Linked DNA regions of Homo sapiens: region 1 is linked to region 2. The links come from fine-mapping of genetic effects on gene expression. A gene starts in region 2. The other region holds a variant in brackets. All regions are shown on one strand. Distances are between the middles of the regions.

The links. PIP is the estimated chance that this variant, and not a neighbour inherited with it, causes the effect. A credible set is the group of variants that fine-mapping cannot tell apart.
Region 1: its variant is the best candidate, but not a certain one, in a credible set for the expression of FMO4 in putamen (GTEx, PIP 0.61).

What each region holds. Positions count from the first base shown.
Region 1 is chr1:171,358,651-171,361,562 of GRCh38, reverse strand. No RefSeq gene overlaps it. Among named protein-coding and RNA genes, the nearest start is that of FMO4, 46 kb to the right of the region's middle. The variant T/C (reference allele first, on the strand shown) is at 1,425.
Region 2 is chr1:171,312,567-171,315,478 of GRCh38, reverse strand. FMO4 (flavin containing dimethylaniline monoxygenase 4) reads right to left here and starts at 1,296. Exons shown (of 10, transcript NM_002022.3): 1 at 1,066-1,296.

The sequences.
Region 1 (2,912 bases), 46 kb before region 2:
GTTGTTCCTTTCCATGTTTAGTGCTTCCTTCAGCAGCTCTTGTAAGCAGACCTGGTAGTGACAAAATCTCTCAGCATTTGCTTGTCTGTAAAGGATTTTATTTCTCCTTCACTTATGAAGTTTAGTTGGGCTGGATATGAAATTCTAGGTTGAAAATTCTTTTTCTTTAAGAATGTTGAATATTGGCCCCCACTCTCTCTGGCTTGTGGGGTTTCTGCAGATAGATCCGCTCTTAGTCTGATGGGCTTCCCTTTGTGGGTAACCCAACCTTTTTCTCTGGCTGCCCTTGATATTTTTTCCTTCATTTCAACCTTGGTGAATCCGATGATTGTGTGTTTTGGGGTTGCTCTTCTTGAAGAGTATCTTTGTGGCGTTCTCTGTATTTTCTGAATTTGAATGTTGACCTGTCTTGCTAGGTTGGGGAATTTCTCCTGGATAATATCCTGAAGAATGTTTTCTAACTTGATTCCATTCTCCCTGTTACTTTCAGGTATACCAATCAAATGTAGATTTGTTCTTTTCACATAGTCCCATGTTTCTTGGAGGCTTTGTTCCTTCCTTTTCATTCTCTTTTCTCTAATCTTGTCTTCATGCTTTATTTCATTAAGTTGGTCTTCAGTCTCTGATATTCTTTCTTCCACTTGATTGATTTAGCTATTGATACTTGTGTATGCTTCACGAAGTTCTCGTGCTGTTTTTTTCAGCTCCTTCAGATCATCTATGTTCTTCTCTCAACTGGTTATTCTAGTTAGCAATACCTCTAACATTTTTTTCGAGGTTCTTAGCTTCCTTGCATTGGGTTAGAACATGCTCCTTTAGCTTGGAGGAGTTTGTTGTGATCCACCTTCTGAAGCCTACTTCTGTCAATTCGTCAAACTCTTTCTCTGTACAGTTTTGTTTCCTTGCTGGTGAGGAGTTTTAATCCTTTGGAGGAGAAGAGGCATTCTGGTTTTTTGGAATTTTCAGCCTTTTTGTGCTGGTTTTTCCTCACTTTGTGGATTTATCTACCCTTGGTCTTTGATGTTGGTGACCTTCAGATGGGGTTTCTGTGTGGACATCCTTTTTGTTGATGTTGATGCTATTCCTTTCTGTTTGTTAGTTTTCCTTCTAACAGTCAGGCCCCTCTGCTGCAGGTCTGTTGGAATTTGCTGGAGGTCCACTGAAGACGCTGTTTGCCTGGATATCACCAGCAGAGGGTGCAGAACAGTAAAGATTGCTGCCTGTTCTTTCCTCTGGAAGCTTCGTCCCAGAGGGCACCCGCCAGATGCCAGCTGGAGCTCTCATGTATGAGGTGTCCGTTGACCACTGCTGGGAGGTGTCTCCCAGTCAGGAGGCATGGGGGTCAGGGACCCACTTGAGGACTTTGTCTGTCCCTTAGCAGAGCTTGAGCACTGTTCTGGGAGATCCACTGCCCTCTTCAGAGC[T/C]GGCGGGCAAGAATGTTTAAGTCTGCTGAAGCTGTGCCCACAGCTGCCCCTTCCCCCATGCACTCTGTCCCAGGGAGATGGGAGTTTTATCTACAAGCCCCTGACTGGGGCTGCTGCTTTTCTTTCAGAGAGGCCCTGCCCAGAGAGGAGGAATCTCAAGAGGCAGGGTGGCTACAGCGGCTTTCCAAGCTGCGGTGGGCTCCTGCAAGTTCAAACTTCCTGGTGGCTTTATTTACACTCTGAGGGAAGAACTGCCTACTCAAGCCTCAGTAATGGCAGACACCCCTCCCCTCACCAAGCTCAAGAGTCCCAGGTCTACTTCAGACTGCTGTGCTGGCAGCGAGAATTTCAAGCCAGTGGATCTTAGCTTGCTGGGCTCCATGGGGGTGGGATCCGCTGAGCTAGACCACTGGGCTCCCTGGCTTCAGCCTCCTTTCCAGGGGAGTGAATGGCTCTGTCTTGCCGGCATTCCAGGCTCCACTGGGGTATGAAAAAAAAAAAAAAAAAAACCTCCTGCAGCTAGCTTGGTGTCTGCCCAAATGGCCGCCCAGTTTTGTGCTTGAAACCCAGGGCCCTGGTGGCGTAGGCACCTGAGGGAATCTCCTGGTCTGCGGATTGTGAACACTGTGGGAAAAGTGTAGTGTCTCGGCCAAAGTGCACCATTCCTCACGGCACAGTCCCTCATGGCTTCCCTTGGCTAAGGGAGGGAGTTCCCTGACCCCTTGTGCTTCCCGGGTGAGGTGATGCCCCACCATGCTTTGGCTCACCCTCCGTGGGCTGCACCCACTGTATAACCACTCCCAATGAGATGAGCCGGGTACCTCAGTTGGAAATGCAGAAATCACCCACCTTATTCGTTGATCTCACTGGGAACTGCAGACCGGAGCTGTTCCTACTCTGTCATCTTGCCACCCACCCACCAAGATTCCCTTTAATTATATTTTTAAAATGTAATGGGATTACGAATTGTTCTTGGGAACTGTGTTTCATTCTCAACCAGGGAGGTGCAAGACTCATAGCTGCTGCTCTGAGAGAAACTGTCGGCTTCAGCTTGAACCATGACCCCTTATAAAGGCCCAAGTACAGGCTCAGACTGGATTTTCCAATTACTCCTTGCCATAAACTGTACACACAGCAGTTCAGCCTGCTGCACTTGATTGGTCCTTCCCTGTCTGCAAGACCTAATTAGAAATCATTGACTGTCAAGGGTCAAATTAGGTCTAGGCTGAGTTTACCTAAGTGAATCTCAATTTCTCCATTATTAGGATTAAAGGATTCCTGAAATTAAATTCTAAGCTGCATTGCAAGCTTTGGTTGGTAGCATATGGCCTGCTGGTCAAACTTCGCTCATACTAATGCTAAATGGTTGAAATTGCAAAAATGCCAGAAAGAATTCTGCAGTGTCAGATGAGACATTTGAAAAGTCTCAAGAATATGAAGGCTTATCTTTGCCTGCTTTCTTAGGTGACTTGCATGCATACCTAACTG
Region 2 (2,912 bases):
TGTTCTTATGTCTGAAAACCAAGTAATTGGTGCACAAAAAAAAAAAGATATGAATTCAAAGGTAGGCGAGAATACTGCAGGCTTGAAGGATTGGGAGAACGTGTGTGCAAACTCTGCAAACTATAAAGTGGACTTCATAAGGTACTTGGTTGCTCAAAGGTGCTTATATTTATTTATTTATTTATTTGAGTTGGAGTCTCACTCTGTCTTCCAGGCTGGAATGCAGTGGCACAATTTCGGCTCACTGCAACCTCCACCTCCTGGGTTCAAGTGATTCTCCTGCCTCAGCCTCCTGAGTAGCTGAGACTACAGGCAGGCGGCACCACGCCTGGATAATTTTTGTATTTTTAGTAGAGACGGGGTTTCACCATGTTGGTCAGGCTGGTCTCAAACTCCTGATCTCAAGTGGTCTGCCCTCCTCGGCTTTCCAAAGTGCTGGGATTACAGGCGTGAGCCACCGTGCCAGCCATAGGTTGCTTATATTTAGTCCCTTGGCAGAAAGGAGACCTGACCTATTGAACTAGACCTTTGTACAACGGGAAAACCCCACCCTATACCTGACTGACCAGCAAATGTAGGAATCCTTTATGAGACATGGAGAGACTTGGGTGATTTGCAAATCATGTAATCAATTATGATTTCTTTGAATTTGAAATTTGATCATTTTATGTTTCTTATCATCATCCTACCATGCTCTTGCTTTGTTACAGTATTTTTTTCCCACGCCATCTATGGGGTATTTGTTTCCCAATGGCTGGCATTTCCATCTCATTCATAAGATGAAATCAGAGGTCACTGGAGTCACTGAAAGTCTCATGATTCTGTTTATCTCACTGACACTTTCCTTTTGGATGGTTCTGTCCACAACATAACTTTGTTTCCTTACAACTTCCCTTTGCTTCCTGACTCTCTCCTTAATTCTCTTGCTTTAGCCCTAGTCAAGAGACCCCAAAAGAAGATAATCACATTCATTCTTAAGGAACACACTCCAAGAAAAACATTCATCTTTTGTGAAAGCAGTTTCTGGATCATTTCCCCATTAAAAAAAAAATCCAGGACACTTACCTTGGTTAGCATAGAGCAGATTCTTTGACTTAAATTATTTCTCAAAGTCAAGGAAAGTGTTTGTCTTTTTTTTTTAAAAAAGCTCAAAACCCAAATTCTTTTTTCTGAAAGAAAAATAAATGGAAAGATGACTTTTGTAAAAGTGCCCTCAGTTTAAAACAAAAGCCATTCGTCTTTTCTGTTATGCTAGTGACAGCAGAAAGTATACAGACTAAGGAAAAAAAGTTGTGTAAGAGGCAAGCGTGATACTTCCGTGATCTTAAGGGAGGGCGGAATGGTGAGTTAGAATACAGCTGTTGGATTGGCAGAACATAAACGCTTCCTGCCCCTTTACCCCACCCTCCTCAACGTCATAGTTCTGGCAAAGCCCTAAAGCTATGGGAAGCACATGATAGCGTCGCTTTTGCCATTATAGTCTGTAGAGGGCGCCAAATCACCCCAAATTACAGCTTTCTCAGCGAAACAGGAGTTCTACTTTTGGAAACAAACTTCTACACCCTGACTCTTGCTTGGATTACCATAGGAGCTGTCCAAAGGAGAAAGTTATTTAGATGACCATTACCTCATCAAGTTCTTTCATGCTTGGAGTTCTCCAACCCCAGAAATGTGATTTTAAAGTTCAGGACTTACAAGGAATTTAAGCTGTTTTGTCCTTCAGATTGGATCAGCAGAGGGAGCTGGTGAAATGTGTTTGAGAAAGCATAAAGCTATTTTTAGATATTAACCTAGGGCACAAGAAAGGTAATAATTATAGAAGCTGTGGCAGAAATAGAAAACTTAACTGTTTTTCCTTCCACTGTGTGCTTGTAAGATAATATAACAGACCATCTTTAGGACTTGTGTTTAGGGACATTTTCCAACATGGTTCACTGAACAATTTCTAAACCACATTTGCTTGTGACTACACATGCAAATGCCTACAGGAGTGAGGAGGGTAACATACACGAGGAAAGTGGGCCAGATATGATCTGACTGGAAAGTACTTTCTCTGTCTATTCAGTTCAGCTAAATGTTGCTATTTGAGAAAATGAGCCCAATATGGCAAGGCCTTAGGTTCTTTTCAGTAAAAGCTGCAAATACAGATTTTAATATAAAATCTTCTGTTGGCAGCAAATATTTTCTTTTGAAAAATATCATGGAATATTATGCAGCCATAAAAAGAAATAAGATCATGTCCTTTGCAGGGACATGGATGAAGCTGGAAGCCATCATCCTCAGCAAACTAACACAGGAACAGAAAACCAAACACTGCATGTTCTCACTCATAAGTGGGAGTTGAACAATGAGAACACATGGACACAGAGAGGGGAATGTTGTAGGGCCTGTTGTAGGGTAGGGGGTGAGGAGAGGGAACTTAGAGGAGAACAGGTCAATAGGTGCAGCAAATCACCATGGCACACGTGTACCTATGCAACAAACCTGCACGTTCTGCACATGCATCCCACTTTTTTTTAGAAGAAATAAAGAAAAAAATTTAAAAAAAGAAAAAAAAATATTGTGTCCAGAGTTAGTTCCTTCCGGTGGGTTCCTGGTCTCCCTGACTTCAAGAATGGAGCTGCGGACCTTTGTGGTGAGTGTTACAGTTCTTAAAAGATGGCACAGACCCAAAGAGTGAGCAGCAGCAAGATTTATTGTGAAGAGCGAAAGAACAAAGCTTCCACAGAGTGGAAGGGGACCCGAGCCAGTTGCTGCCGCTGGCTGGGGTGGCCAGCTTTCTCTTATTTGTCCCCTCCCATGTCCTGTTTCTGTCTTATCAGAATGCCCTTTTCTCAATTCTCCCCACGATTGGTTACTTTTAGAATCCTGCTGATTGATCCATTTTACAGAGCGCTGATTGGTCCATTTTA